4 separate regions of the Homo sapiens genome follow, and all the other regions are linked to region 1. Evidence: fine-mapped expression QTL. A gene starts in region 1. Each other region holds a variant in brackets. All regions are shown on one strand. Distances are between the middles of the regions.

Region 1 (8,102 bases):
AAAGCACTTGCTACATAACTCCTCCCAGCTCCCTAGAAGGCAGGCACTCCTTCCTCCTCGGGCTCTGAACATGCTATGCCCTCTGTCTGGTACACACCCCAGCCTGTCCTCCCTACTCATCCCCTGGCCAACTTGACTGCTCATCCCTCAGGTCTCAGCTTAGATATCACCTCCTTCATGAAGCCTCCCCTGAACCCCAGGAGTTAGTCGCTCTTAGCTTCATTCTACAGATGAGAAAACTAAGGAACAGAGAGGTTATGTGACTTATCCCAAATCACATGACTAGAGTTGGGTTTGAAGCTGGTGCGGGCTGAATCCAGAGCTTTCAATGCAGTCATCACTTCCTTAACCAGCGCTTCTAAAAGTATGGGACCAGCTGCCGCAGCAGCCACTGCAGCAGCCTCACCTGGCAACTTGCTGGTAATGCAAATTCTCAAGCCTCACTACAGACCTACTAAATTAAACTCTGGGGATGGGTCCAGCAATCAAAGTGTAAGCAAGTCCTGCTGGGGATGCTGATGTGCACTGAAGTTAGAGAAACGCTGGCCTAGGGCAATTTTCCGCAGTTTAGCCACCTACTTCCGGGTGCTTCCTCTGGCTTGCTAGTCCTTGCTAGAGCTCGAAAGCTTCACAGCTGGAGAACAGAACGCCATCCACCTTCTGACTCTGGAGCCATTTGAGACGCTTCTCTAGGAGTCCCACAGCCCTGGGACTTTGGGGGTTGTGGGGAGCACTGTTATTTTCTGCTTTATCATCAGCGTGTTAGTGACTCACTCCTTCCTTTGTCTGAAGCCTTCTTATATGGTTGGGCACGGCTCATGCCTGTGATCCTAACACTTTGGGAGGCCCAGACAGAAGAATCGCTTGAGCCCAGAGTTCAAGCCCAGCCTGGGCAACAGAGTGAGACCCCATCTCTACACTAAAATTAAAAGTTAGCCAGCCATGGTGGTAGCTCATGTCTGTAGTCCCAGCTACTTGGGAGGCTGAGGCAGGAGGATCACTTGAGCCGAGGAGTTCCAGGCTGCAGTGAGCTGTGACTGTGCCACTGCACCGCAGCCTGGGTGACAGAGCAAGACCCTGTCTCAAAACAACAACAAAAAAGAAGCCTCCTTGCTTGTGCTCATCAGCCTTGGCTGCAAGAATTTGATCCAGCAACACTTTAAGGCCCAAGCCGCTTTCATCCCAGGTGGAGACAAGGTCATCGCTCTAACCACCTTCTAGGAGCCTTCTCAGTTCATCAGGGTAATAACCTGCAGCTTTCAGGTCAGCAGAACCAATCTCCCTCAACAAAAAACACTGATTCTTTTAAATTAGTTCAACCTGCCGCTATTACTTTGTCTATAGCCCTGATCATTCAGTTGTTCTGCTTCAGGTGTAAGAACTGGACCAGAAATAGTGAATCCCGGAGAACGAGCTTGAACAAGTCCAAGCTTCTGCTGTTCACCCTTGGCTTTCTTCACACAGCTCCCAGAGTCCCGGCAACCAGACGACAACCCTGCCAAAAACTGGACAAGACTGCTTTGGGGACTCTCCCCACAGCAAGATAACAACCCTAAAGACATCCTTCCCGGGTGGGCATGGTGGCTCATGCCTGTAATCCCAGCACTTTGGGAGGCGGGTGGATCACTTGAGGTCAGGAGTTTGAGACCAGCCTGGCCAACACAGTGAAATCCCATCTCTACTAAAAATACAAAAATTAGCTGGGCACGGTGGCATGTGCCTGTAGTCCCAGCTCATACTCAAGAGGCTGAGGCAGGAAAATCACTTGAATCTGGGAGGCAGAGGTTGCAGTGAGCTGAGATCACACTACTGCACTCCAGCCTGGGCAACAGAGCAAGACTCCATCTCAAAAACAACAAACACTCCCTCTGGCTTGTGGCTCTGCCCTCCTCTAGGCCTTCAAAGTCGCCTTGACTTGTCCAACAAATAAGGAAAGAGTGAGAGGTTTTTAGGGTCGAGGCTTGAAATGGACACACTCACATTTCATCAGCCAAAACTCAGCCGTGTGGCCCTACCGAATGGTAAGGAAGCCTAGGAAAATTCATCCAGGGAGCACCCCAGGAGGACGAGAACATGGGTACTGGTGACCCATAGCTTTCTCTGCCACATAATACAGTAAAATGTTTTAAAAGCAAATCAGAGATTTTTTTTTTTTTAAATAGAGACCGGGTTTCACCCCGTCAGCCAGGCTGGTCTTGAACTCCTGGGGTCAAGCAATCCTCCCGCCTCAGCACCCCCAAAGTGGCTGGGATTACAGGTGTGAGCTACCACACCCAGCCAGTGATATATCCGTAATCAGCCAAAAAGTACTGTACAGTTACAAAAAGCACAAGAAAAACAAATTGGTGGATCTTTTTTATTTTTTGAGACAGAGTCTCGCTTTGTTGCCCAGTCTAGAGTGCAGTGGTGCAATCTCAGCTCCCTGCAAACTATACCTCCTGGGTTCAAACGATTCTCGATTCTCCTGCCTCAGCCTCCCGAGTAGCTGGGATTACAGGCTCATGCCAACATGCCCAGCTAATTTTTGTATTTTTAGTAGAGATGGGGGCTCCCTATGTTGGCCAGGCTGGTCTCAAACTCCTGACCTCAAGTGATCCACCTTCCTCAGTCTCCCAAAGTACTGAGATTAAAGGCCTGAGCCACCACGCCCCTGGCCCAAAACACCGGTAGCTCTTGGAATGTACACCGATGATTATGTGTAAACTGTGACCACTTCAGTTCTGTCTTCTGGCCTCCCCATTCCCTGCAGAGGATAAGAACTTCGGACCCCACCCCCTTCTTTGAGAATGGGGGCTGAGAGGAGGGCGGACGCCAATCCCAGCCATGTTACACTGAAATTCATGTCCTTGAGAGGTTTTACTGTAGTTGTTGAATTAATAGCTGAACAAAGGAATGAACATCGGGTGCTGTGGAGGCCACACAGAAGGAAGACACCTGCATACGCCATCTCTGAACTCTACCTCCTTCCACCTGCCTCTTCCCCAGCTCAGCTTAAACAGCACTTGCTACAGGAAGCCTTCCCCCATAACCCTCTCCCCTTTACACACACAGTGGGCATTCTCAGCTCCCACCTGCTTGCTCTGTATTCCCATTTACTCCATCTCGCTTTTTAGAATCTGTTTATGTGACTGGCTTCCTCTTAGGGAGCTTCTGTGGGCCTGGGGATCACTCTGACCCTCGGTTTCCTCCTCGCTAAAAACATTAGGATAGACTACGTGACTCAATTCGCTGTGACTTCACAGCCTGTCCAGGGCCCTCAACCACAGGGCTCTTGGCCATCAGATGTCTCCCGGGGCCATAGACTATGACACTGTGTGCCAGGCACTGTTCCAAGCACCTGACATATACATACTCATCTACTCTTTCCAAGGATACTAAGTGGTAGATACTAATACTGTACCCATTTTACCGATGAGAAAACCGAGGGCCAGAGAGCATAAATGAGCTAGAATTCCAACCCAGGACTCCAGCCCTAGTGTTTCCTGCTTTCCTGGCTGAAGAAGCACCCACCACCGAGGTCCCAGAGGTCGGGCTCCCTGGGACCGTCCCCCTGGGCAGATCTCACTTCCCCATGCGGCCCATCTGTCACACTCAGGGCGCAGCTGGGCTGGTTCCCCGAAATCCCCCAGGCGCGCGCAAAAGGATCTAGGCCGGGGCTTACCCGGGAGGCCCCCACCCCCGCGCGGCCACCGGCTTATTAATGCCCAGCCCCTTGGCACACATGTCAGCAGCGCCTGCCAACAAACTCCCGCAGCCAACAATGCAGCAAGGGCGCGTCTATACAGTCCTGGAGGTTCCGGGAATTCGGGCTGACGCAGGCCTCTAGTTCAGGGGAAAGGTGGGGGATGCGGCTCTGAGCCCTGCAGGGGACAGGAAGGCAGCGATGCGCCCACACTCTAGGGGCCCCGAGGGGGGAGGCCCCCAAACTCTCTGTCACTTGCAGCCAGATCACCGCCCATTGCTTGCCAATTGCTTTCCATATCCACATCGCCTTTAATCCGCACAACTTCCCCATTTCTCCAAAGCAAGCACTTAGCCCCAGAGAGTTTAACAACCAGAGGAGAAGCGCCCCCACACTCTCCTTCCATGCCTTCTCCGGCCCCATTCCCAAGCCCAGACCCAGCACGCTCCAGACGCCAGCTGCACCCGGGCGCACAGGCCTGCAGCGCGGGCTCCCAGCCCCCCACAGCCTTGCCGGCCGCGGTCCACACCTACCTCCCTCGGGCAGACAGGCGCGGCAGCCGCTGCCCACGGCCGCGAGGGTCCAGAGGAGTTGGCAGAGGCTCGCGGCCCGGAGCTCCAGGGTGCAGGGCGGGCGGGCCCCCCGAGAGTGCCGGGGAGCGGAGAGCGGGGAGCGCTAGCTGGCGCTCCGGGCAAGCAGCTGGGGCCACGCGGGGTAGATGGACCGATCCCAGGGCGCGCGGGGCAGTCGGAGTGATCCCAGGAAGGGCGCAGGGGCCGTTGGGACGATCCCGGGATGTGGGAGCGCGTGCCAGGGGGGACTCGCGTGCAGGCGACAGCGAGCGGGACTCGGGTGGCTGCAGGGCCGGGAGTGCGGGCGCTCGATCCAGGAAGGAGGGGAGCTGAGGCTGAAGCTGGGGCTGGTCTAGGTTGAGCAGAAGCGGGCGGGCAGGGGCGGGGCTGGCCTGGCGGGCGCACGGCGTGGCGCTCACGTGGCCGCCCCCAGGTGGCCATCACAGCGCCTGCAGCCGCCTAGCGGGCCTCCTGGCTCCGGCGCTGGCTCCCAGCCCCAGGTGCAATGGTTAGCGCTAAGTCTTGGCTCCCCCTGCTGAGTACACAGTGTCCGGTTCTCCTGCTCAAGGCTGGCCTAGCATCCGGCAGCGAGGGGGCAATTCGAGGGAGTGACCAACTTCCGTCCTCTCCCGCCGCGCCTCGCCATTCTCGCCTGCTTCTCGCTTAGTTCCTGTATTCCTGTCCTTTCCAAAATCATTAGTGATCCAAGCCCATCGCTTGTTTGTATGTATCTCTATCCATAACCTTAAAATATTTTTTATCGGAAATACTTTGTTTTTCCTGATTTCTGCTTTGTAAAAACAGGCACGTATGACGATTGCAATTATTTGTGTAGTTTTAAAATTAGTATCTCCTTTAGTTATTCCTAACTCTTGACACAGGGCCTGGGTGGCACACAGTAGATGCTTAATAAATACCTGTGGCATGAGTGGTAGAGTGGCTAAGGTATAAAAAAGAAAACGAATTAAAACTAATAGCTACTGTGAACACTTTAATATTAGGTCCTTCCAGATACTTTGTTAGTGAAATTTTAGAAATTTCACACATTCTAGATAGAAAAGTAGTAACAATGACATGTTTTGAGGGATTTCTCTCATTCCATCTTCCCAGCACTTTGGGAGGCCGAGGCCGGCAGATCACCTGAGGTCAGGAGTTCGAGACCAGCCTGGCCAAAACGGTAAAACCCTGTCTTTAGTAAAAATACAAAAAAGCAGCCGGGCGCGCCTGTAGTCCCAGCTACTCTGGAGGCTGAGGCACGAGAATCGCTTGAACCCTGGAGGCAGAGGTTGCAGTGAGCCGAGATCGCGCCACTACACTCCAGCCTGGGTGAAGGAATGAGACTCCGTCGCAAAAAAACAAAAACAAAAAAATAAAAAAGAAAAAAGAACAAAACTGAGGCTTATAGAGATAATGACATGCCCCAGGTGAGGCAGCTAGAAAAGGCAGAGCCAGCAGTAAATCCAGACTTCTCTGATTTCAAAGTTCAGGCTCTCCAAAGAACTTTTTTCCTTATTTATAAACCCCAAAGAGAGTAAACTCCAGCTTTTGGCAAGACAAAATTGCACCTGGAATTCTGACCCTGGGGCCGTCAGGCAGGAAGGGAAGATCAAAGATGCTGAACTAGTCTGTCCAAGCCCAAAGCAAGATTGGAAAAAAAAAAAAGACGCTACTGCTTAAAGCTCTATGGCCCTTGGGCAAGTTATTTTACTTCTCTGAGCCTCTGTCATTTTTGTCTGCCCAGCAGGAGTGTCCTTCTTTGCATTAGCGTCTTGGTTAGTCTTCAGGGAACCAGTTCACCCTATTTCAGTTCAGGAAAATAGCCCTCCCCACTCCCCTGGCTCCAAAAATGGACACATGACCAGACCTGGCCAATTAGCATATTTCATCCCTTCAGCCTCATTGATTGGTTCAGGGATGAGCATGTGATCCAAGTTAGGCCAGTGAAATACTAATCTGGGCCTTTTATAGTAACCATAAAAAGAGAATGTCTCTTTTCCAGGGAGTTGAGCAGATAGGATGTAATAGTAGAGTTTCTGAGCATTAATTCTTATGGCAAATTTTATTAAGCTCCTATTGTGTGCCAAATATGGTGCTAGGAATTGGGGGAAACATTTGCCTTCAAGGAGATGTCTACTGCGGTAAAATAAAATTACTCAAGGCCGGGCAAGGTGGCTCACACATGTAATGTCAGAGCTTTGGGAGGCCAAGGCAGGAGGATCAATGGGGCCAGGAGTTCAAAACCATCCTGGGCAACATAGCAAGACCCCTGTCTCTAAAATAAAACATTAAAAAAAAAAAAAACCCAGGTATGGTGGTGTGTGCCTGTAGTCTCAGATACTCAGGAGGCTGAGGCAGGAGGATCCCTTGGGCCCAGCAGTTTGAAACTGCAGTGAGCTATGATCATGCAGTGCACTTCAGCCTGGGCAACAGAGTGAGACCCTGTCTGTAAAAATTAAATAAATAAATGAAAAAGGCCAGGCTCAGTGGCTCATGCCTGTGATCACAATACTTTGGGAGGCAGGCAGATTGCTGGAGCTCAGGAATTTGAGACCAGCCTGGGCAACATAGCGAAACCTCATCTTTATAAAAAAATACAAAAATTAGCCAGATGTGGTGGCTTGCATCTATGGTCCCAGCTACTCAGGAGGCTGAGGTGGGAAGAACACTTGGACCTGGGAGGCAGAGTTTGCAGTGAGCCAAGATCCCGCCACTACACTCTAGCCTGAGGGACAGAGTAAGACCTTCTCTCAAAATACAATAACAAAAACAAACCACAAACAAAAAAGAAAGTGAAAAGACAATCAGAGAATGGGGAAAAAATATTTGCAAATCATATCTGATAAGGGATTTGCAGCTAGAATATATAAAGAATTGTTACAACTCAATAATAAAAGATAAATACTCCAATTTAAACATGGGCCAAAGATTGGAATAGACATTTCTCCAAAGAAGATATACAAATGGCCAATAAGGACATGAAAAGGTGCTCAACGTCATTAGCCACTAAGAAAATGCAAGGCCAGGCATGGTGGCTCATGCCTGTAATCCTAGCACTTTGGGAGGCCAAGGTGGGATGATGGTGTGAGCCCAAGAGCTCCAGATCAGCAAAGGCAACATAACAAGACCCTCATCTCTACAAAAAAACAAAATAGAAAAATTAGCCAGGCTCGGTGATGTGTGCCTGTAGTCCCAGCTACTCGACAGGCTGAGGTGGGAGGATAGCTTGAGCCCAGGAGTTGGAGGCTGCCGTGAGCTATGATTGCACCACTGCACTCCAGCGTGGGTGACCAAAAAAAGCAAGTCAAAACACACCCACTACCCACTAGCATGACTATAATCAAAATCTCAGATAATAGCAAGTGTTGGCAAGGATGTGGAGAAACTAGAACCCTCATACACTGCTGGTAGGAATGGAAAGCAGTTTGGCAATTCTTAAAAAAAATTAAACATGAAGTTACCGTATAACCCAGCAATTCAAATCCTAGCAGAAATGAAAACATATGTCCACACAAAAACTTATACAAAATGTTCATGGGAATATTATTCATAATAGGCAAAAGGTGAAAACAATCCAAATGACTGATGAATGCATAATTAAAATGCAGTAGGCCAGGCGGTGGCTTATGCCTGTAATCCCAGCACTTTGAGAGGCCGAGGCGGGCGGATCACTTGAGGCCAGGCTGGTCTTGAACTCCTGGCAACAACGTGGTGAAACTCCGTCTCTATTAAAAATACAAAAATTAGCCAGGTGTGATGGCATGTGCCTGAAATCCCAGCTACTCGGGAGGCTGAGGCAGGAGAATCACTTGAACCTGGGAGGCAGAGGTTGCAGTGAGCCGAGGTCACAC
Region 2 (8,102 bases), 220 kb before region 1:
TTCTTTCTCCTTAGCAAACTTGCAGATAGAAGACCCATAGAACGGTACCCTAAAAGTGTTACTTTCTGCTTTATATTGTTATTTTTACCAGCACTTGTTATATTCAGCAATTTCTCTGTGGTAGGTACAGTTGTCACATGCAGCTCACATCCGCAGAGTCACTCCAGCATGTTAATGCCTCTGTCTGTGTTGTTTTTTTGTTCCACAGTAAGTACCAGCTCGTCTTCTGCTACACCATCATCGAGAGGAACAATCGCCAGATGCTGCCAGTCATTAGGAGTACCACTGGAGGAGACTCAGTGCAGACCTGCACAAACCCACTGGACACCTTCGTCCCCTTTGATCCCTGTGTGCTGAAGAGGTAGGTACTTTTAAACATTGATGCTGGAGGAGGTGGATTTTTTTTTCTTTTTGAGACGGAGTCTCGCTCTGTCGCCCAGGCTGGAGTGCGGTGGTGTGATCTCGGCTCACCTCAAGCCAGCTCGCCCACCCTGGCATGAGCTGGCTCATGCTTATAATCCCAGCACTTTGGGAAGCCAAGGTGGGTGGATCACCTGAGGTCAGAAGTTCAAGACCAGCCTGGCCAACATGGTGAAATCCCGTCTCTACTAAAAATACAAAAATTAGCTGGGTTGGTGGCCCACACCTGTGGTTCCAGTTCCTCGGGGGTCTGAGGCAGGAGAATCGCTTGAACTTGGGAGGTGGAGTTTGCAGTGAGCAGAGATTGAGCCACTGCACTCCAGCTTGGGTGACAGAGCGAGACTCCATCATGGAAAACAAACAAACAAAAAAAAGCACTGCCATCTATGAATAGCAGCATGGCACAAAACAGAAGCCACTAGAGAGAGTATTGCGGGACCCTCGTTTTATGTAGCAAGAAATGGAGGCTCAGAGAAGGGGCGACTTCCAAGGGTGAGTGACCCAGTGCAAGGAGCCGGCTTCCGTTCGACTGCAGATTCTAGCCCTTCACCAACTCACTTCTCCTCACCAAGGGCTTCACTTGCACCACTGCAGTCTTCCTTTCAACAGTCGTGGGAGACACAGACCAGTCCCCATTTTACAGATGGGGAAAAAGGAGGCTTGGGGAACTCCTTGGCCAGAGGCCACAGAGGCCTCCCAGTGGGACTCTGTGCTCTGCAAAGAAGGGAATCTGGGGAGCAGGCACCCTTTAGAGAAATAATCTGCATCGAACATCCACAAAATCCAGCAGGAGGCCACCAGGAGCTGACCCCCATGCAGAGAGGAAGCACCAGCACTCTGGGTGAGTGAGGCCAAGGTCACAGTCAGTCCCCAGGAGAGCCGGCAGCCGGCCCAGGGCCCAGATGGGCCTCTGGCTCAAGCCCAGCAGAGGCTGTGTCCACTGGGCCTTGAGGTCTGCACGGGAGGCCCGTCCCTCACCCCCCAGGGCAAGAACAAGCCCACGCCTCAGCCCTGTTGGCGGTGGAGCAGGAACATCCCTGCAGTGCTTTAAGGGCACACTTGTTATTTTTTGTTCAGCTCGTGGCAGCAGGTGTGCCTTGGAATCTAGATGTTTTTTGTATCCCCAAGGGAACCCAGGCTCAGGTTTTAGGCTAGAAAACAAGACAACTGCAGATGGTAATTATCCCCCAGGATCACTAGTCAAAGGCTGCTTTTGGTCAAGAATCTCAACCTGCGTGCCTGTCTGTGTGGCACACCCTCCTCAGGAACAGCCTCGCAACTTTCCCTGGAACCTCCCCTTCCCCACTACACCTGGTCCTGGCGAGGATATTATTCACATCAGTGAATAAAATGCTAATTTTAGTGGGGGGCTGACAAACAGTTCTCACACACCAGTGTGCACCAACATCCCCTGGAGAGTGTGTTGGAGCACAGACTCCTGTCGGCCCGGCGGCTCACACCTGTAACCCCAGCACTGTGATAGGCCAAGGCGGGAGGGTAACGAGAATGCATCTCTACAAAAATAAAAATAAAAAAGTTAGCTGGACGTGGTGGTGCATGCCTGTGGTCCCAGCTACTCGGGAGGCTGAGGCAGGAGGCTTGCTTAAGCCCAAGAGATTGAGGCTGCAGTAACCTGGGATTGTGCCACTTAACTCCAGCCTGGGCAACACAGTGAGATCCTGTCTCTCAAAAAAAATAATAATAATAACAATAACATACACACAACACAACCTGTGCTCCCTCTAGACATTCTGACTTGGCAGGTGCAAGGCAGATCCAAGAATCTCATGCCAGCAGGCTCCCAGGTGCCGCTGATCCCGCCAGTCCGTGGCTTTGTAAGGGTATCTGCTGTGTTGCTGGCTCGGCTTCCATCCTCCTGCGTCCTGGGTCCAACATTCCTGTTTTCCTTGGGAGCCCATCCCCGACTCCCATTCACGGGGTCCAGAGACAGGAGTGGGTGGGGACCTGGGCATGGCCACTCAGAACAGCCCTGTCACTGGCTGCAGCAATTGGTACAGGCATGGGCACGTGACTCAAGACCAGCCAATGAGAGCCAAGGAGTTTTTTTCTGGGACGTATTTAAAGAGATTATTTCCATAGCTGTGCCCCGCAGCAGGTGAGGGCCCTCCTGAGAAAGTGTCCACACAGGAGGGCAAAGCCAAGGTGGGGGATATCAAGGCCCAAGCCAATTTCGGGGCCTCTGAATGTAGCTGTACCTGAAGCCAAGTCAACCCCTGTACTAATAAGCCTCTTTTTAAAATCAGTTTGATTTAAGTTCCTATCACTTGCTTCCAAGAGTCCTGATACAAGCAAATAAAAGTGGCCAGGTGCAGTGGCTCATGCCTGTAATCCCAACACTTTGGGAGGCCGAGGCAGGTGGATTGCTTGAGGTCAGGAGTTCAAGACCAGACTGGCCAATATGGTGAAGGCCCATCTCTACTAAAAAATACAAAAATTGGCCGGGTGCAGTGGCTCACGCCTGTAGTCCCAGCACTTTGGGAGGCTGAGGCGGGCAGATCACCTGAGGTCAGGATTTCGAGACCAGCCTGACCAACATGGAGAAACCCCATCTCTACAAAAAATACAAAAGTAGCCAGGCGTGGTGGTGCATGCCTGTAATCCTAACTACTTGGAAGGCTGAGGCAGGAAAATCGCTTGAACCTGGTAGGTGGAGGTTGCGGTGAGCC[G/A]AGATCGTGCCATTGCACTCCAGCCTGGGTGACAAGAGTGAAACCTGGTCTAAAAAAAAAAGTAAAAATACAAAAATTAGCTGGGCGTGGTGGCAAGCACCTGTAATCCCAGCTACTGGGGAGGCTGAGGCAGAAGAATTGCTTGAACCTGGGAGGCGGAAGTTGTGAGTCGAGATCACGCCACTGCACTCCAGCCTGGGCAACAAAGTGAGACTTAGTTTCAAAAAAAATAAAATAAAATAAAATAAAATAAGTGACTAAATTGGCCAGGTGCAGTAGCTCATGCCTGTAATCCCAGTGCTTTGGGAGGCAGAGGCAGGTGGATCACCTGAGGTCAGGAGTTCCAGACCAGCCTGGCCAACATGGTGAAACCCCGTCTCTACTAAAAATAGAAAAATTAGCCAAGTGTGGTGGTGCGTGCCTGTAGTCCCAGCTACTCAGGAGGCTGAGGCAGGAGAATTGCTTGAACCCAGGAGGCGGAGGTTGCAGTGAGCTGAGATTGCACCACTGCCCTCCAGCCTGGGTGACAGAGCAAGAAGACATTGTCTCAAAAACAAACAAACAATCAAACAAACAAACAAAAAACAGTGACTAAACTGAGAGCAAAGAAATGGAAGGGAGGGAGCAGGAGGATCATCAGTTTCCATCCTTTTACTGTGTGCTCAAATGTAATTTGGCTGCAGGTGAGGTCTGTGCAGACCCTGGGTGAGGGGCGAGTTGGCTATGGCCTGTTTAACTCCACCTGTGCAGACTGCAGCTCAGCCTCGTCCATGCTTCGTGACTCAGCCTTGTCCTCAGGGAAGCTGGGGCTGGTGCAACTTTCAGAAGTGGTCCCAGGTAAGCCTGGCCCTCCTGAGTCCATGGGTGGGGAATGCTGGTACAGGCCTAGCAGCTGGCTTTCCGGGGCTGGGTGGAGGTACAAGAGCGGTGATGTGTGGTGTTCGCCACTTTCCATGGTGCAATTACCCCTGCATGGCCGAGTTCAAGTTTTGAAGGTGCAGTCACCAATAGTGGAGTTGGGAAGAGATTTGCACAGTCAGCTCCAGAGCCAGCATGCACCATCTCCCACCCGTCACTGCCCCCTGCCTTCCTCCCTCTTGTCCCTGCAGCCTGGGATCTCACTGCTGCTCTCCAAGTGAGGAATTCCAGTAAGGCTTCTTAAGACTTCTTTTTGGTTTACCTGGCAGAACCCCACCTCAAACTGGCTTAAGCAAAGAAGAGGGAGATTTGCCAGCTCCGATCCTAAAGAGTCAGGGCTGCAACCGGGTGCAGGGGTTGTCGACTGCCAGGGCTCTGAGTGCTCCCCCAGGCTCTGCTTTCCCCAGGGGACACTCATGGGGGTTCCCTGATGGGGCAATGGTGGCCACCCGAGGCTGTGGCTTGGCCTCCAGTGGAGCGACGTCACCTCTTTCCCGGCAGTTCCAGCCACCATCCCAGGGCTGATTCTCAGGGGCCCGGCTTTGGCTGCTCATCTGGCCAGCCCGAGGGTGACCCCGCCTGGAGCAAGGTGTGCTTGGAGAGTGGGAGGCAGCACTCCCGCAGGACAGCCGAGGACGCTGTTCCCAGAGTGAGGATGGGGCGCCCTCCTCACTGGACGTGCGTCCTGGCCATGGACCCCGAGCTGACCTCGGCCCCTCCCTGACTCGGTTGCTCTCAGGTCCAAGGCCACTGCTGCTGTCTCTGTCTCCCAGTGTCAGCCTCTGACCTTGTCCCAACCCCACTTTTGGCTTCCCCACCGGCTTCACATCTGCTCAAAGGATCTAGGCCCTCCCTGCCACAGACCGAAAGAAGGATCCGGTGTCTCTCCCGGGCCATGGAAATGAGCTGGGTCATCCCTCCCTTGGCTCCCATCCACGTGGGCCAATCTGGTTTCACTTTATTTGTCATTTTCTCCAAAACCCAGTTTCCTTTTTATTTCTCTCCTACTCAGCTTCACTTGCTCCCGGTCCCCTCCCCGTCTCTGCAGCTGATTTTTCCAGGTTCTCGGTCCTCTCCTTCACAGATTTTCTGTCCTCTTTGTTCACCCAGATTGGGAATCTGGAGCTGCTGGGGATGGAGGGAATGAGAACCTCAGATGAAGGACAGGTAGGGCTAGAGAAAGGTTTTCAGAGAGAAACAGAGAATGAGATGAAAACACAGCAAACCCTGGATGGAAGGAGGGGCAGTGCCCATAAGACGAAGGGAAGGGAGCGGACAAGGTGCAGAGAACTGCACACAGACAGGCTCCCGAGGCCTGGGCCACACCGTGGCAGGGCCAGAAACAAAGCGAAACAAACAGAGAGGCCAAGGAAATTTCCGTTGGTGGGGACACTGCCAGCAGTTTTCCTAGGAGCTGGGGGTGCCAGCACTTGGAGCAAGCACGGGCCAAGGACGATGAGTAACAGAGGTGGCAGCAAGGGCTCTTTCCAGGGAGTGTGTATGGCCTTGAAGGCCAAGGAAGAAAGGCTGGGGGAGCAAAGCGGTGGGGAGGAGGGAAGGGGGAGAGGAGAGGTGCCAGTCACAAAGGAAAACAGCAGCCAGATCCACGCGCTGCCACACTGTGCCTGTCCCACCTCGAGTACCCCCGCAGATAGCTCAGCTCATTCCCTAAAGGTGCGGGAGGGCCCAGCTCATTGGGCAGGGCTGTATGAAGCGCTTGGCACCATTCCGGGAGAATTAAGCATTTAGTAAACAATAGCTTCCTTCAAAATAAATCCAAACGAGGCCTGAGAGCCCGGAGTTGGGGGGTGCCTGCCAGGCTGTCCGCATGAGAGGAGGAGGTTCTAGGGACGTCTTGGCTCCTCTAGTGGGGCACAAATCGGCAGCTTCAAGATGAGAGACGGGAAGAGTGAATTCCTTGGAGGGGAATCTTGGCACTGTTGGGACTGGCACTGTGGCTGTGCAGTTCAAGGACGACCCCTGGACTGAGAGGAAAGGATGTGACCATCACGCTTATATCCCGGGAAAGTGATTTATCATTGCAAATTCATAAACTGGCAGTCTAGTTCCTAAAACGACTACATGTGTGTGCACGTGTGTGTGCATGTGTGTGTGTTCATGTGCGTGTGTGTGCATGTGTGTGTTCATGTGCATGTGTGCACATATGCACTGTGTATACATTGTGCATGTGTGTTCATGTGTGTGTGCCCGTGTGTGCATGTGTTCGTGTGTGTTCGTGTGCGGGTATGCGTGTGTGCACTGCATGAGCATGTGTGTATACGTATGTGCATGTGTGCTCATGTGCATTGTGCACATGTGTGTGCACGTGTGTTGTGTGTGCGTGTGTGAACACATGTGTGTTTCCATCTCCATTCTGTATGTAGCTCCTGTTTCTTCCCTCAGGCCTGGGTGTGAATATTTTTGGGGAAGTTAGGTAGAAGTCAGTGTCGCCTCGCTCTCTACAGATGTTTTCTCTGCTTTCTGGTCCTCAAGACTGAAAAATGAAAATGTACCAAACAGCTTTCAAAGTTTACCTGTTAGAGATTCAGCCACTGGGGAGCCACTGTTCCTGTTCTTGCTCACTTCAGATTCTAAATTCCCAGAGCAGTGACTCTGATTGGCCCAGCCCTGCACTAATTAGGAGCGGGACTGAGGAAGGGGCTCTGATTGGTCCAGCATGGTTTGAGTGCCCATCCCTGTCCAATCAATTGTGACCAGGGGTGGGATCATGTTAGACAAAATGTCAGGCGGTGGAGTCACTGTTGTTATCATTTGGATCCAAAAGCCCATTTCTTTTTTCTTTTCTTTTCTTTTCTTTTTTTTTTGAAACAGAGTCTTGCTCTGTCGCCCAGGCTGGAGTGCAGTGGCGCGATCTTGGCTCATTGCAAGCTCCGCCTTCCGGGTTCACACCATTCTCCTGCCTCAGCCTCCGGAGTAGCTGGGACTACAGGCGCCTGCCACCATGCACGGCTAATTTTTTTTTTGTATTTTTAGTAAAGACAGGGTTTCACCATGTTAGCCAGGATGGTCTCAATCTCCTGACCTTGTGATCCTCCCACCTTGGCCTCCCAAAGTGCTGGGATTACAGGCGTGAGCCACCGTGCCCAGCCCAAAAGCCCATTTCTAATCGTCCACCTTCCCAGATGCTTCCCAGGTGCACCGTGACCCCTGTGTGCTGTGTGGTCTTTTGTAGGGAGAAAGGATCAATCAAGAAAGGGAAACCCCTGCTCCCATGGAGCTTGCCTTCTGGTGGAATAAGAAAATTAGTAAACATTAATTAATAAATAGGTACTTCTCTATGCAAGTTTACAGAAAAATAAACAAATATGTACATAAGAAAGAAGATGGTTTTGGATAGCGATAAGTGCTGGATGAAAATGAAACCAGGTGATAAGCCAGCGATGACTCCACTGAGGGAGGTTGTGAGCGTTACACAACATGGTCAGAAAAGACCCCGTTGGACCCAAGTCCCAGCTGGTAAGAAAGTGCCAGCTTCATGACGGTGGGGAGAAGCATTCCAGTATCACCGTTTTAAAATATGAGCATCCTAAATATTACACAAACCATACTTACGCTAAATATTTGGGATCTACACTAAAAATGTAGTGTAGTGTAAAAATGGGGTTTCACCATGTGGGCCAGGCTGGTCTCGAGCTCCCAACCTCAAGCTATCCACCCACCTCAGCCTCCCAAAGTGCTGGGATTATAGGCGTGAGCCACTGCACCCAGCCAATCTGATGGGTTTTTTTTTTTTTTGAGACGGAGTCTTGCTCTGTCACCCAGGCTGGAGTGCAGTGGCGCGATCTCCGCTCACTGCAAGCTCCACCTCCCGGGTTCACGCCATTCTCCTGCCACAGGCTCCTGAGTAACCCCTTTTGCTTGGTTCTCATTCTCTCTCTTGGCTGCCACCATGCAAGACCTGCCTTTCGCCTTCTGCCATGATTGGGAGGCCTCCCCAGCCACATGGAACTGTGAGTCCATTCAACTTCTTTTTCTTTGTAAATTACCCAGTCTCGGGTATGGCTTTATCAGCAGCATGAAAACAGACAAATATACTGTTGTTTCTTATTAAATGTT
Region 3 (8,102 bases), 53 kb before region 1:
GATCAGAGGTGTCCTGGCAAGACTGGCCTTGATGTGCAGGCTCCATTTCAGCACAGGGTAAGACCTCTAAATGGCAGATACTGTCTGAGGTTGCCCTCACCAGGATGCTGCTGGGAGGCTACCCAAGGAAACTGACCTCCAAGGCCCTCCTCCCTGGGGCCTCACAGGATCCTGCCTATGAGTGGGTCCAGCTATTACCCAGGATCCTCTCTGCTCAGCAGCCCAGGACTCCCACTTCACCATAAGATTTGTCAGCCATTATCAGCCTTATATCTAAGCCTCCACACTTGCCCCGTTACTGGTCCACATGATCCTGTTTTATCTTCTTTGCATTTATCTTTATCTGAAATACTCTTTATTTTATTTTATTTTGAGACAAAGTTCACTGTGTCACCCAGGCTGGAGTGCAGTGGCACAATCTTGGCTCACTGCAACCTCTGTCTTCTGGGTTAAAGTGATTCTCCTGCCTCAGCTTCCCCAGTAGCTGGGATTACAGGCATGCACCACCATGCCAGGCTAATTTTTGTATTGTTAGTAGAGACGGGGTTTCACCATGTTGGCCAGGCTGGTCTCGAACTCCTGATGTCAGGTGATCCACCCGCCTTGGCCTCCCAAAGTGCTGGGATTACAGGCGTGAGCCACCATGACCGGCCTGAAATACTCTTTATTAATTTACTTGTTATCTTCTCAGGACCCACTCATATTCCCCCTCCAGGAAGGGGAGTTTTCATTTTCCTGGAGGATAAACAAGGCAACAGGTGACACCGGTCTCATTTCCTGGGGGTTCCTTACATGTTCTCGGGGCTCAGGGTCATCCAGCTCACCCCGCTTCTCACTGGGGTATCCGCTGTCCCCACTATTCTCAGACTCCTGTGGAGAGAAGACGGCCTTAGGGTCCTGGTGGTCCCCTGAGCACCTGGAAATGGTTATGACATCTCAACACCCCAACTGTTAGCTTTCTCCCCTCTGTCCCATTACCTAACACCCTGCTCCTGCTGTCCCTTGCCGGGTGTGGTGGCTCATGCCTGTAATCCCAGCACTTTGGGAGGCCGAGGCAGGCAGATCACTTGAGGACACAAGTTCAAGACCTGCCTGGCCAACGAGGGAGCAGTATAAGGTAACAGTAAGGACCTTGGGCTCTACAGCCAAATGACCTGGGCTCAAATCCTGGCTTTATTTCTTGCCAGCTGAGACCTTGGGCAGTTGCTTAACTTCTCTGAGCATCAGTGTCCTTAGTTATGGGATTCATTATAGCCCCTACATCGAAGGGCTGTGTGGGTGAAATGCACTGTTACATTCTGAGAGTGTGGATCACAGGAAGTGCTTTACTGAGAGTGACTCACCCACTTCACAGGCAGAAAAACAAAGGCTGGTTAAGGGCTATGACCCACGGACAAAAATATAGCATTGGGAACAATATTTAATACAAATAAGCCCTCAACCAAAACCACACATTTTTATTTTTTTTTTGAGATGGAGTCTCGCTCTGTCACACTGGCTGGAGTGCAGTGGCACGATCTCAGCTCACTGCAACCTCTACCTCTTGAGCTGAAGTGATTGTCCTGTCTTAACCTCCCAAGTAGCTGGGACTACAGGCGCCTGCCACCACGCCTGGCTAATTTTTGTATTTTTAGTAGAGACGAGGTTTCACCATATTGGCCAGGCTGGTCTCAAACTCCTGAACTTGTGATCCGCCTGCCTTGGACTCCCAAAGTGTTGGGATTACAGGCGTGAGCCACCGTGCCTGGCCTAGTTGGGCATATTTTTTATTCTCCCAGGTCTGAGTTCTGTTCTGAAAGCGAATCTGGTATAATTTAGAATCTCTAAAACTTCAGCCATGTACCTACCAACATTGAATTATAGCTCTCTCTGCATGTCACCTGCACAATTAGTAACGGAATAGTTTTATTTCCTTCTTTATTCTTCTAAGAAGTATCTTTTCTGTGTGTGTGTGTGTGTGTGTGTGTGTGTGTGTGTGGCAGGGTCTCACGTTGTCACCCAGGCTGTAGTGCAGTGGCGTGATCTCAGCTCACTGCAACCTCCACCTCCCAGGTTCAAGCAATTCTCTTGCCTCAGCCTCCTAAGTAGCTGGAATTACAGGCACATGCCACCATGCCTGGCTAATTTTTATATTTTTTGTAGGGATGAGGTTTCATCATGTTGGCCAGACTGGTCTTAAACTCCTGGCCTCAAGTGGTCTGCCTGCCTCAGCCTCCCATAGTGCTGGGATTACAGGTGTGAGCCACCACACCCCGCCTCTACTAAGAAGTATTTCTTTTTTTTTTTTTTTGAGACTGAGTCTCGCTCTGTCGCCCAGGTTGGAGTGCAGTGGTGCGACCTCTGCTCACTGCAACCTCCGCCTCCTGGGTTCAAGAAATTCTCGTGCCTCAGCCTCCTGAGTAGCTGGGATTACAGGAAACTGCCACCATACTCGGCTAATTTTTGTATTTTTAGTAGACATGGGGTTTTGGCATGTTGGTCAGGCTGGTCTTCAAATTCCTGACCTCAAGTGATCTGCCCCCCTTGGCCTGCCAAAGTGCTGGGATTACAGGCGTGAGCCACTGCGCCCAGCCTCTACTAAAAGGTATTTGTTTTTTCTTTTTTTTTGAGACAAGATCTCGCTGTCACCCAGGCTGGAGTGCAGTGGTGTGATGATGGCTTACTGCAGCCTCTGCCTCCCAGGCTCAAGAGATCCTCCTACCTCAGCCTCCTGAGTAGCTGGGACTACAGGTATGTGCCACCATGCCTGGCTAACTTTTGTATTTTTTTGTAGAGATGGGGGTCTTGTCATATTGCCCAGGCTAGTTTCAAATTCTTGGGCTCAAGTGATCTGCCCACCTTGGTCTCCCAAAGTGCTGGGATTATAGGCATGAGCTACCATGCCTGGCCAATTTTACTAAGAAATATTTCAAACACACACACAAGCATAGAGAGTATTATAATTTGCCATAATATACATTTGTGAGAATGCAGATAAGATGCCTTCAGTTTCTTACCACCAAGTCAACCCAAAGCTTCAGGAAATGTTCTGTTTATCTAACTGGAGAGCTAGGTGTGAAGAGCTAGAACACATGGCTT[A/C]CTGTGCTATGTGTTACACATCTAAGACCCAGTATTAGGGCTCTATAGGACAACCAACACATGTGGGGTCAAACCAAACCTGGAGCTGAGACTGGCATTTACTACAAGATCGCATTGTTGCTGACTGGGAGTCCCTCTTCCCTAACCATCTCTGGGAACTGCAAGGGACCCACCTTTTCTCAGAGGAAAGCTCAGCCTTGGACTGGAGGCTGACATTCATCTGCATCCTCCCTAATTCCCCCATTCTGTGCCCTCCTGGCAGTGCCTGGGCTAGGCTGCCCACCTCCGAAGCTGAAGATTCACTCTGGGAGTGAATCCACTCCTACCCCTGCTGGGGTCTGAAGCCTGCAGCCTCCCTCCCTTCACACTCACCCGGTGGTTGTCTAGATGATCATGGTCTCTGGATGCCATGTTATCGAGGTCACTGAACACTGGCCAATCTGGGCAGGGAGAAACAGACATCATGTCCTGGTTCCACTACTGGAACATGCATAAGACCAACCCACGGCCTAGGGCGGTCCATACCTGCCACCAAGCCTTTTTTTTTTTTTAAGCTTTAAAGAAAGGCACAAAAAAGGAGAAGAATGTTATCAGCACCTGGAGGCTAAAGTTCTTCCTTGAGAACTTATTCTAAGTCTGCTGTTTGCCAGCTACATGATTCTGGCCAAGTGGTGTCACCTATGTGTGTCCTCAGGGTTGTCACAATGCAATTATCCTTGTAATGTGTTTATTAGCATATGTGCCTGGCCACCACTTGGTCCTCAATAAAATGCAGTTGTGAAGGAAGAACAGACGTTTATACATTTGGGGCTCAAGAAGTGGGCCTCAGATAGCTTCAAAACCATCTTCAGCTGGGCACGGTGTCTTATGCCTGTAATCCCAGAACTATGGGAGGCCGAGGCAGGTGGATCACCTGAGGTCAGGAGTTCAAGACCAATCTGGCCAACATAGTGAAACCCCATCTCTATTAAAAATACAAAAATTAGCTGGGTATGGTGGCATGCACCTGTAATCCCAGCTACTTGGGAGGCTGAGGCAGGAGAATCGCTTGAACCCAGGAGGTAGAGATTGCAATGAGCCAAGATCACGCCACCGCATTCCAGCCGGGGTGACAGAGAGAGAGATTCCGTCTCAAAACAAAACAAACAAAAAAAAAACACCAACCATCTCCTGGTGGTTCCCTATCTCTGTCTCCTGCCCTCTACAGCCAAATCTATCTGTCTGTTTTTATAGTTTGTAAGAACAGTGTTTACATTTTTAAATGGATGACAAAAATTAAATTTCACCATCCATAGAGTTTTATTGGAACACAGCCACATCCACTCACTTAATATTTTCTATGGTAGCTTTCATGCTCCAAATGCAGAGACTGAATGACCTGCAAAGCTTAAAATATTTACTCTCTGACCTTTTAAAAAAGTCTGTTGACTCCTGTTCCAGACTATTCCAAAGACCTTCCAGTGGAAACATCTAAAGGGCTTCTTTAATGTTTGACACTAAAATCTTTCTCTCTTTCAAAGGTATCAAAATGAGAAAAATTAAAAAACTAAACAATAAAATCTTGCTCTCCTGCTCTGAGCCTGCTCCCGCTCACACTTTCCCTGAATACATGACCTCCAGCTCTTTAGGCCAATACCCTGGGGTCAGTCTTGCCTCTATCCTTTCCTACAGACTCTCATCTGAATCATCAGCAAACTCCACTCTTTCAGTGTCAGAAATAATGATTCTGTTTTTCTCCTTTGACCCATTAATATCACATTCATAGCTTTTCTAACATTGAACAACCCTCAGATTCCTGTGAAATCCCTATTTAACTGTGACAGGTGAACCTTTTAACATAGTACTATTTTTATTTGTTAATATCTATTTAGATTTTTTTTTTGTTCTCTATACACAAATACAAATTTTAAATAAGGTTGGGATATAATTTTCTTTTTTAGTTTGTCAAATTTATTATATAGGTTTTGCTGGTTTCATAAAACACACTGATAAAAGTTACTTTGTTTCCTACAATAGGGGTTGTTTTTATAGCATTTGGATGATCTGTTTTGAAAGTTCACTCAATGAAACTCACCTATAAAACCACTGGGGCCATGAACCTTTTCGATTAGCATGTCTGATTTTTCTAACATAAATGAAAGCTGGTTTAGCTCTGCTCCACCTGTCCCCTCCAATCACAGTGACTAGGGACCGAACCGTCACTCACGGAGGTGGTCTAGCTTCTGGCTGTGTGGTGTGGCCGAAGATGGGGAAGAAGGGAGAGAGTCGAAGGTCACGTCGCTCATGTTCTCGTCTCCAGAGTTCTCTGAAAGGGGACGGAGCAGGGGTGGCCGGCTCCCAGAGAGGGTCCTTACTTGGGGGCTCCCACATTTTTCCTCTGTTCCTCTCAAGATGGTCTTGGCTGATTGCTAGGGACATTAATAGGGATACTCATGTCACGCACACACCCTCTGGGAATTAAAGGGCTCTTCCTGTTGTTCCCTCTAACCCTGAAACCCCTTCATCCACAGCTCCTAAACATGCCTGTTTAGGAGCTGATATATTGTCTTAAAAAATAAAAAATCAGTCAGGGATTAAACCTAAGGCCTCCAAGAAAGGGCATCTGGAACAGAGGCTCAGAGGACCTGCCAGTATCCCCTAAAGCACTGACCACATTCCACAGCCCAGAGCTGGAGAAAGCATTCCACTCTATGTCCAGCATCCCAAGCTGGTCTTTGCAACATTCTCTTGTCCCTGGTCCAAGTAGCAATGGGAGGATGGGAGGTATGTTGGTGAGGTGCCTGGAGAGCCAGGTCTAAGACTAGTTCAGTCATTTGTCAATACATCACACAAACACACACACACACCACATGCCTTCTCACTATCTCCACGTGCCTGTTCCCCTCACTCTGGTAAAAAATGGGCCCAACCTAAGCAGATACCAGCTGCTCGATTGGAAGGACGCTCAGGAGGGCTTTGTGCACTGAGCTGGAGGGGACGGGCTGGGGCATGGATGGGACAGATGCTTCCAGCCCTGGTATTCATCAGTTAAGCACTGCTTGACCTGGCTGTCACCACACAGGGGAGCAGGGCTTGCTTTGCAAGTAGCAGAAGGGCCTGCCAGGCCAAGCAGGGTCACACTGGGCACCCACCAGCAGCTTGGTGTTCTGATTCACTGCATCCCTCTCCCGGGGCGAGAGGTCAAAGGGAGCAAGGCCCATGCTCTCGCAAATCCGGTTGCAGGCATGAGAGTAGAAGAAGAGCGCCATCCCGCGGACACCTGTGGACAGAGCGGGGGTGTCTGGAGTGTTGCTTTGCTCTGTGACGGGGGACAGGCAGTGGTGGGCCTCATACATATGGCCAGGGCAGGTATAAAACGTGCCAAGCTGGGAGGCATCAGACATCCAGGCTCCCATCTCCATGATCTTGAAAAAGCGCGTACAGTGTCTCAGCCTGTTTCCTTGGCTGTACGAAGAACTCAGAGGTTTTAGCAGGGAGCGTGGTTTCTGCAGAAACAGGCTGGCTTTCCCCACGTACCTAGGTTGCCGTCTCCAAAGTCAGTGCCCGTCTCCGTGTGGATCTGTGGGTCAGTGTAGAGATCCCCAACTCCCTGGATGTCCACCACTATCAGCTGATGGCCGGAACGCTCAAAAGTGAAGTGGCTGAAGGCCTACAGGGGACAGGAAGGAAAACGAGATGTCAAGAGACAGGCTGAGGTCTGTGCAGGCACTGGCCACGCCTCTGCCCATGCTGAGGGGCTTTCTCTTCAAGGAGTTATATAGAGGAAAAGACAAAGGAAAAAGGCCTCTTCAGTTGGGCAGGGACCTTGGGCTGCAGGTCCTGTGGCCACCTTAGGTGACAGAAGCTGTCATGGGGTGACGGGTCTCCTTCTGAATGCTCCAAGAGGCTTCTCTGGGGGTGAGACTCCAAGCCCACAGGGACCTTCCTCTTTAGGGGCTGAGCCTGGCCAGGATCTCACCCCAAGGGCTGTGGTGGGCAGAGGGTGGAGGTGAGCTCGGCCTCACCTGCGGCGTCAGGCGGATGTTGTCATCGCGGACAAAGCCAGAGTTGGAGTTGTACTTGATGTACTTGCCCTCGATGTAGTGCTCCAGGTGGAAGAGGGGCTTGCCCGGTCTGTCCTTCAGCTCGATGATGCACATCTGCATGATGTCCACCTGGTGGGATGGGGAGTGGGCTCAGGCGGGAGGGCCCAGGCGCACCTCCTCTGAGAAGCGGCAAGGGGAGGGCTCAGAGGAACTCGCCTGCCTGGGCTCAGACCCTGGCTCCATGACTTACTAGCTCTCTATTGTAGGAGCTCCTGATGATGCCCAGAATCTAATCTCCTCTTTTCCTTTAATTTTTTTAAAATTAAAAAAAATATATTTTTAGGCTGGGCACGGTGGCTTACATCTGTAATCCCAGCACTTTGGGAGGCTGAGGCAGGTGAATCAGTTGAGGTTAGGAGTTCGAGACCAGCCTGGCCAACATGGTGAAATCCTGCCTCTACTAAAAATACAAAAATTAAGGCTGGGCATGGTGGCTCACACCTGTAATCCCAGCCCTTTGGGAGGCCAAGGTGTGTGGATCACCTGAGGCCAGGAGTTGGAGACCAACCGTGGCCAACATGGTGAAACCCTGTCTCTACCAAAAATACAAAATTAGCCAGGCATGGTGGCACATGCCTGTAATCCCAGCTACTCTGGAGGCTGAGGCAGGAGAATCACTTGAACCTGGGAGGCAGAGGTTGCAGTGAGCCAAGATTGCACCACTGCACTCCAGCCCTGAGCAACAAGAGCAAAACTCCGTCTCAAAAAAAAAATTAATAAAATAAAAATACAAAAATTAGCTGGGCGTGCTTGTGCGTACCAAAAATCCCAGCTACTCAGGGTGTCGAGGCAGGAGTATCACTTTAACCCAGGAGGCAGAGGTTGCAGTGAGCCAAGATCATGTCACTGCACTCCAGCCTGGATGACAGAGTGAGACTCCGTCTTAAAAAAAAAAAAATTTATTTTAGAGACAGGGTCTCACTCTGTCGCCCAGGCTGG
Region 4 (8,102 bases), 39 kb after region 1:
ATGACACTGCACTCCAGTCTGAGTGACAGAGCAAAGCAAGACCTTGTCTCAAAACAAAACAAAACAAACAAACAACACGCCTGTAATCCCAGCACTTTGGGAGGCTGAGGCTGGCAGATCACGAGGTCAAGAGATGGAGACCATCCTGGCCAACATGGTAAACCCTGTCTCTACTAAAAATACAAAAATTGGCTGGTTGTGGTGGCATGCACCTATAATCCCAGCTACTTGGGAGGCTGAGGCAGGAGAATCTATTGAACCCAGGAGGCAGAGGTTGCAGTGAGCCAAAATCACGCCACTGCACTCCAGCCTGGGGACAGGGTGAGACTCTGTCTCAAAAAAACAAAAGAAAAGAAAAGAAAAAAAAACAGGCTCAAAGGGCTTAAGTGATTTGCTCAGGGTCAGGGTCACATGGGTAGAATGCGGCCAGGTTGAGGCTAAGGCCAGACCTGTCTGATTTCAATGCCCCTGCAGGTGTGACCAACTGAAACAGGAGAGTGCTGACGCCACCCAGTTTTGGGAGCCCCTTCCTGCTAGGACGTATCCTGAGTTGTGAAACCAACCCTGCTTCCACCCATCCCTCCCCTCTGAGCTGTGGGTCCCGGGCCCGCGGGTCCTGCCCACCTCTCCCGGAAGACAGGTACCTCGTCCAATGGGAAATATGGCACAGAGTCCTCATCGCCCTGCTCTATGGGCTTCCCTCCAAATGCAACATTGACAGTGCTGGTATAGATGAGCCTTGGAACCCGCCGGCGAACACAGACTGCAGCAGCAGGTGCACATAGCAACAAATAAACACACACACACATGCAAAGACACAGACACACACGGGACACAAGTGAGCATAGAGTCGGCTGAGGAGGTGTCATGCAGATCTCTACCAAGTTTTCAACACACAACTTGGACCCCCAGGACCCTCCCAGAATCTACAGCTGTTCAGGAGGGAAGAGTCTCCTGCCCTTAACTTAGGGTGCAGGTCAAGTTCCTGCTCTGTGGGCCCCTGGGAGCCAGGTCTGCTCCTTATTCTTTCTCATTGTGGCTTGGACCCCTGGGCTACCTTGCCAGAGACAGGTCAGAAGAAGGTCTCACTGGATGGAGACTTAGAAAAAGACACTCTAGAATCAAAGACATACGGGATAAGGCAGGACATGCCCAGGCAGCCCACACATGGGTCTGCGATTTTGGTGCTTTAGTAACTTTTTATTTATCTGTTTGTTTATTTATTTATTTATTTATTTATTGAGACGGAGTTTCACTCTTGTTGCCCAGGCTGGAGTGCAATGGCGCGATCTCGGCTCACCACAACTTCCCCCTCCCAGGTTCAAGCGATTCTCCTGCCTCAGCCTCCCGAGTAGCTGGGATTACAGGCATGCGCCACCACGCCCCGCTAATTTTGTAGTTTTAGTAGAGATGGGATCTCTTCGTGTTGGTCAGTCTAGCCCCGAACTCCCGACCTCAGGTGATCCACCTGCCTCGGCCTCCCAAAGTGCTGGGATTACAGGCGTGAGCCACCTCGCCCAGACTTATTTATTTATTTTTAAATTTTATTTATTTATTTATTTTGAGATGGAGTTTTGCTCTTGTTACCCAGGCTGTAGAGCAGTGGCACGATCTCGGCTCACTGCAACCTCTGCCTCTCAGATTCAAGCGATTCTCCTGCCTCAGCCTCCTAGGTAGGTGGGACTGCAGGCACCCGCCACCACGCCTGGCTAATTTTTTGTATTTTTAGTAGAGGTGGGGTTTCACCATTTTGGCCAGGCTGGTCTCGAACTCTTGACCTCAGGTGATCCACCCCTGTTGGTCTCCCAAAGTGCTGGGATTACAGGCATGAGCCACCACGCCCAGCCAGCTTCGGCAACTTTTCTTTTTCCAGTCCCTAAGCCCTGAGAGGTAACTCTGGTCCCCATGTTCCCAGACATGCTAAGGCCACACTGACACACCCATGCAGGGCCCTGGGGAGGTCTGCAGTGCACGAAGGATGCGCTGCCCACAGGCCCTCCCTTTGACCCTACACCCTGGGAGCCAGGCCTGCAGCAGGAGAAGGGAGAGAGGGGGAGAGGCACAGCAGGTCATACCCGGCTCTGAGCACCTACCATCAATCACTAGTTTGGTGCCTCCAACATTTATAGACTCAATCTGCTCTTTCTGCAGCTAAAAGACAAGACAGGTGAGAAAGTCATGGTGCTACCCATGCCTTCTTGCTGAGGCTGGAAGGCTGAGCTTGGGGTCAGGTGGGACAGGGCAGCAGGATGTTCAGTTCAGAGGCAGGGATCCCGAAGGCCCACCTGGAGTGTGGGTGCCTGGCTCTGCCACCATCTTCCTGGGTGGCCAGAGGAGGTTCTGCCCACACATCTGTCCCTCAGCAACCTCATTTGTAAAGTGAGGGCCAACCTCCTCCCCTGGGTGGTGGGCGGGACTCAATAAGACACTTGAGAGGACCTGGTACAGTGCCTGGCACAGAAGATGGGCTCAGAACCTGTTGGGTCATTTTCCTACTCTCAAAGCCTCAGTTTCCCTATCTGTAAGGTGAACATGGTAATATGGGCTGGGCCCTCACGAGGGAGCTGGGATGTGAAAAACAAAAATTAGGCCGCTGTGAGGGCTCCTGTGGGCCAGGAACAGGGCAAGAACTTCCTGATCCATGATCTCATTTAATTCTCATCACACCAGGAGATGAGCTCCATGCTTATTTTTAAGCTATATTTATTATTATTATTTTTTTGAGACCGAGTTTAGCTCTTGTTGTCCAAGGTGGAGTGTAGTGGTACAATCTTGGCTCACTGCAACCTCTGCCTCCCGGGTTTGAATGATTCTCCTGCCTCAGCCTCCCAAGTAGCTGGGATTACAGGCATGCACCACCATGCCTGGCTAATGTTTTTGTATTTAGTAGAGATGGGGTTTCATCATGTTGGTCAGGATGGTCTCAAACTCCTGACCTCAGGTGATCCACCTGCCTTGGCCTCTCCAAATGTTGGGGGTACAGGCATGAGCCACTGCTTCCAGCCTATATTTATTCTTTTAAAAATTTTTGGCCAGGTGTGGTATCTCATGCCTGTAATCCCAGCACTTTGGGAGGCCGAGGTGGGCGGATCACTTCAGGTCAGGAGTTTGAGACCAGCTTGAGCAACATGGCAAAACCCCATCTCTACTAAAAATACAAAAATTAGCCAGGTGTGGTGGCGTGCAACTGTAATCTTAGCTACTCAGGAGTCTGAGGCAGAAGAATCGCTTGAGCCTGGGAGGTGGAGGCTGCAGTGAGCTGAGATCATATCACTGCACACCAGCCTTGGTGACTGAGCGAAACTCCGTCTCAAAAATAAATAAATAAATAAAAATAATAAAATTTACTTTTATTATTTTTAAATAGAGATAGGGGTCTCACTATGTTGCCCAGGCTGGTCTCGAACTCCTGGGCTCAAGCAATCCTCCCACCTTGGCCTCCCAAAGTGCTGGGATTACAGGTGTGAGCCACCACACCTGGCTCTATATTTATTCTTGTTGTGGCTGTTTTTGTTTCATAGGCAACACGATCAAGGTTAAAAAGAATTCAAACAGTAAAATGGGTGTATAGTGAAAAAGAAGGTTCCCTCCTACTCCTGATTCCAAATCTTCCTTTTCCCTCCCCAGAGGCAGCCACTGTTAAATTTCCGGTGTTTCTCGAGATAATCTATTCTTATTAATATCAGCATATAAGCATGTGTGACTATAGAAATAAATAGTTTCTTTAGCTTTTTTTGGAAACAAACAGGAGAATGCCAAACACTGCTTTGCACCTTGGAAACTATTTTTTTAATCTGCACACTTTGAGTTACCTCTTTCTTTTGAATGGCTGCATAGAATTTGACTGTAAAACACAATTTATTTAAATAGTCCTCAACTGATAGGTTATTTCTGGTGTTTTGTTATTAAAAACAATGCTGCAAATACACAAATGAGTGTAATTTCTGAGGCAACGGGTATACATATGTTTTGGTGGATACTATTACATTGCTCTCTGAAGAGGTTGTGATATTACCAATAGTAATATCCTCACTTTCCAGATGATGAAAGAGGATCAAAGAGGTTAAATAAACTTGCCCTAGATAACACAGTTATAAAATGGCAGAAATGGGGCC[G/A]GGTGCGGTGGCTCCTGCCTGTAATCCCAGCACTTTGGGAGGCCAAGGCGGGCAGATCACCTGAGGTCAGGAGCTTGAGACCAGCCTGGCCAACATGGTGAAACCCTGTTTCTACTAAAAATACAAAAATTAGCTGGGCGTGTTGGTGGCACCTGTAATCCCAGCTACTCAGGAGGCTGAGGCAGAAGAACCACTTGAACCTGGGAGATGGAAGTTGCAGTGAGCTGAGATTGTGCCACTGCACTCCAGCCTGGGTGACAGAGTGAGACTCAGTCTCAAAAAAAAAAAAAAAAAAAAAAAAAAAAAAAAAAAAAATGGCAGAACTGGTATTTGGTGTCATGGATGCAGGATGCAGGGTGGGAGTAGCCCAAGTCCCTCCTATAATAGGTGAAGCATGATAGGGAATGCATGGGTGTGAGGGCAGAGCCAGGACTGGAACCCCACTCTGTCTAACTCCAGGTGTTGTGTGTGAGGAGCCCACCTTCTCAGCCCCGGACATTCCATAGGAAGCCACGTGGAAGACACAGTCCACCCCTTCGAAGGCACGGTACAGGGCTTCTTCATCTCGGACATCAGCCTGCACCAGAGGAAGAAGAGATGAGGGCAGGGGGTTCAAGTCCAAGGCAAGAGATAACACCTCTGCACCTTGCCTGGTCTCAGAACTGGCCCCCTGACCCAGCCCAGGCCAAGCCTCTGTAGCATCAGGAAAGGCTGGTGGGGCAGGATTCACTAAATGATTCTACAGGGCACCGTGAGCAACATCCCGTGCTCATTCATCACGCTCTGTAGGTGACAGGGGCTGTGCTAGGTTTATGTGCACTGTCTCATCAACTCCCAATGAGACCCTGTGAAGTAGGTGTTGGTTACTATTGTCCCCTTTCTGTGACCATAGCTACCCAGCTGGTAGCACCAGAGCCAGAGCTATAGCTCAAACAGTCTGGCTTCAAACAGTGTGCCCCTAAACTCCACACCACAGGTTTCACATCAAACACTGTCCCCTGACCATCACCACTGCCCCAGTCTATTAAGACCCTTGTTCCTTGTACCTGGATGAACTTGGTTTCCGGGGACAGTTCCCACTGGGGTCTGCGGCGGTCAAGCAGAATGACGGAAGTGCCGCTCTTGGCTAGGTGGGATCCCAGGCTGAAGCCCAGGTAGCCTCCTCCTCCAGTCACTAGAACCTTCTGCCTGGCAGCCTTTGTAGGTTTGGCTTGAGTCTTCTGCTGCGGCGCTGGTGTTGGGGTTGTTGTTGACTCACTGGGTCTGGGCCCAGTCCCAGACCCCTGTCTGAGCCCAGGCCCTAGCTCTGGCTCAGGTGTAGACCCAGCTCCTGCCCCAGGTACTGATCCAGCTCCCGGCCCAGGTACCGATCCAGCTCCCGGCCCAGGTACCGATCCAGCTCCCGGCCCAGGTACAGACCCAGCTCCTGGCCCAGCTCCTACACCAGGTCCCAACCCACCTCCTAGACCAGGTCCCGACCCAGCTCCTGGTCCAGGTACAGACCCAGCTCCTGGCCCAGGTACGGACCCAGCTCCTGGCCCAGGTACGGACCCAGCTCCTGGCCCAGGTACGGACCTAGCTCCTAGACCAGGTACGGACCCAGCTCCTGGCCCAGGTACAGACCCAGCTCCTGGCCCAGGCCCTAGACCTGGTCCAGTCCCTGAAATAGCACCAGGCCTCGGAACAGTACCAGAACCCGCCTGAGGTCCTGGAATAGCTTTGGGCCCCAGTCCAGGCCCTGGAATGGCACCAGGCTTTGGTGCAGGCCTTGACTCAGACCCTGAGCCAGACCTTGGACCTGAGACCTCTCCACAGGCCTGGCAGACAGGGCAGCTCTTCTCACCCTGGCCTGCAGCTTTGCAGGCCTCTAGGGAGGAGCGTGGGGGGTTGGACTTCATCCTCTACTGAGCCATGCAGACCCAGAAACCGACCACCTGTGGGAAAAAAAATAGAAGAAAGAATGCTCTAGAATCGTTTCAAGTCACATAAATTATTAGACCTCTAGGACTGAGGGGAACTCCAGGTGGAAATTAGAAATTCTCTGAGTTCCCAGGGAACCTGCCCCTTTCAGAATCTCAAGAATCTCCAGTGTGGGCCCGGCGTGGTGGTTCACGTCTGTAATCCCAGCAGTTTGGGAGGCTGAGGTGGGCGGATCACTTGAGGCCAGGAGTTGGAGATCAGCATGGCCAACATGGTGAAATCCTGTCTCTACTGAAAATACAAAAATTAGCCGGGTGTAGTGGGGCACACCTGTAATCCCAGCTACTCAGGAGACTGAAGCACAAGAATTGCTTGAACCTGGAAGGCGGAGGTTGCAGTGAGCTGAGATGGTGCCACTGCACCCCAGTCTGGGCAATAGAATGAGACTCAGTCTCAAAAACAAACAAACAAACAAACAAACAAAAAACTCCAGTGTGGCTGCTGTCCTCTGCACAGAGTCAGAGACAAGGCAGCCAAGACTTGGATTTTAGAGCTAAGAAAATTGAGGCCCAAAGTCACGCTGTGTAACTGAGGTTGACATTAAGCATTCCTGACTTATCTACCAGTTCCTTAAAATTCCAGTTTCCATGGAGTACCAAAGGAAGACAGGGCAAATCATCCAGCGGGAACCTCACCAGACTGGGAGGTGGCTGCTTTCTGACTGGGGAGATTGGGAGAGCCTTCTGGAAGAGGAGGAAGAGAAAGAGGAGGAGGAGGAGAATCCACATGGATCCAAAAGGACTCTGCACCCTGGAAACTTGCACATGACTCCAAGTGCTGTGCCTGTCTCCACCCTGATGCCTGACGCCTCTGGTCCTCCAAGGTCCGACAGTAGTGTGGGTGGCTGGTACCACACGTTCTGCCCAATCCCTCTGCAGGCTTTAGGGTCTGGTCTATGGGCCTAGGGGGACAGCACTGAGGATCCTGTTCTTTGCAGCCTCAGACTACTTTCTTTTCTCTGTCGCCCAGGCTGGAGTGCAGTGGCACAATCATAGCTCACTGCAGCTTCAAACTTCTGTGCTCAAGCGATCCTTCCATCTTAGCCCCACAAGCAGCTGGGAATACAGGTGCATGCTACCATGCCTGGTGAATTTTTGCATTTTTAGTAGAGATGGGGTTTCACCATGTTGGCCAGGCTGGTCTTGAACTCCTGACCTCAAGTGATCCTCCCACCTCAGCCTCCCAAAGTGCTGGGATTACAGGTGTGAGCCACCGCATCCAGCTCCCTAGATCTTTTTTTAATTTTTGAGACAGAGTCTCACTCTGTTGCCCAGGCTAGTAGTGAACTCCTGGAACTCAAGCAATTCTCCTGCCTTGGCCTCCCAAAGTGTTGAGATTACAGGCGTTAGCCACTGTGCCCAGCCCTCAGTCTAGACTCAGGGCAAGCCAGGCTGTCAGTCACTGTCACCATCGTCCATCCCCCCACCCCCCTCCCGACCTCCCTCTCCACCTGAGGATGAGGCTGGATGACCAGGGCTAGGTGATCATTAACCGTAACAACAGCAACCATGTGCTAGGGACCTCTGTGCGCCAGGCCCTACATATACAGATAGGTGCATCTCTGCCCTGCATGGCATATACTGGCTGCATGAAAGAACGGGTATTTGTTGAGTGACTGGACTGATGAGCCCCATGTTTTTTTGCTGGTGGTGGTCACAGGGCAGGGACTCTGGCAGCTAGAGGGGCTGTATTTTTAATTTCCTCTGTTACTGCCCTGCTCACCAAATGTCTGGGTGAGGAATACAGTCCTGCCCCGTATAAGCACGAACACTCATGGCTTTATTTATTTATTTAGAGAAGGAGTCTCACTCTGTTGCTCAGGCTGGAGTGCAGTGGTGTGATCTTGGCTCACTGCAACCTCCGCCTGCCTTGTTCAAGCAATTCTCCTCCCTCAGCCTCCCGAGTAGCTGGGACTACAGGCACGCGCCACCACACCTGGTTAATTTTTGTATTTTTAGTAGAGACGGGGGTTTCACCATTTTGGCCAGGCTGGTCTCAAACTCCTGG

The links.
Region 2: its variant is fine-mapped to the expression of EEF2K in whole blood (TOPMed, PIP above 0.99).
Region 3: its variant is fine-mapped to the expression of EEF2K in whole blood (TOPMed, PIP above 0.99).
Region 4: its variant is fine-mapped to the expression of EEF2K in whole blood (INTERVAL, PIP 0.93).

Annotation. Positions count from the first base shown.
Region 1 is chr16:22,202,793-22,210,894 of GRCh38, reverse strand. EEF2K (eukaryotic elongation factor 2 kinase) reads right to left here and starts at 4,617. Exons shown (of 18, transcript NM_013302.5): 1 at 4,216-4,617. RefSeq lists an enhancer at 455-955 and silencers at 4,117-4,386, 4,547-4,846.
Region 2 is chr16:22,422,055-22,430,156 of GRCh38, reverse strand. It overlaps the pseudogene RRN3P3. Among named protein-coding and RNA genes, the nearest start is that of CDR2-DT, 51 kb to the right of the region's middle. The variant G/A (reference allele first, on the strand shown) is at 3,108.
Region 3 is chr16:22,255,878-22,263,979 of GRCh38, reverse strand. It overlaps EEF2K (eukaryotic elongation factor 2 kinase), which reads right to left. Exons shown (of 18, transcript NM_013302.5): 7 at 7,083-7,232; 8 at 6,595-6,727; 9 at 6,210-6,337; 10 at 5,285-5,486; 11 at 3,451-3,518; 12 at 793-870. Among named protein-coding and RNA genes, the nearest start is that of TRL-AAG2-4, 37 kb to the left of the region's middle. The variant A/C (reference allele first, on the strand shown) is at 3,079.
Region 4 is chr16:22,163,494-22,171,595 of GRCh38, reverse strand. SDR42E2 (short chain dehydrogenase/reductase family 42E, member 2) reads right to left here. Exons shown (of 13, transcript NM_001394319.2): 2 at 5,959-6,049; 3 at 5,162-5,346; 4 at 4,597-4,692; 5 at 2,094-2,151; 6 at 645-763. The coding sequence starts at 6,013. Among named protein-coding and RNA genes, the nearest start is that of SDR42E2, 5.0 kb to the right of the region's middle. The variant G/A (reference allele first, on the strand shown) is at 4,116.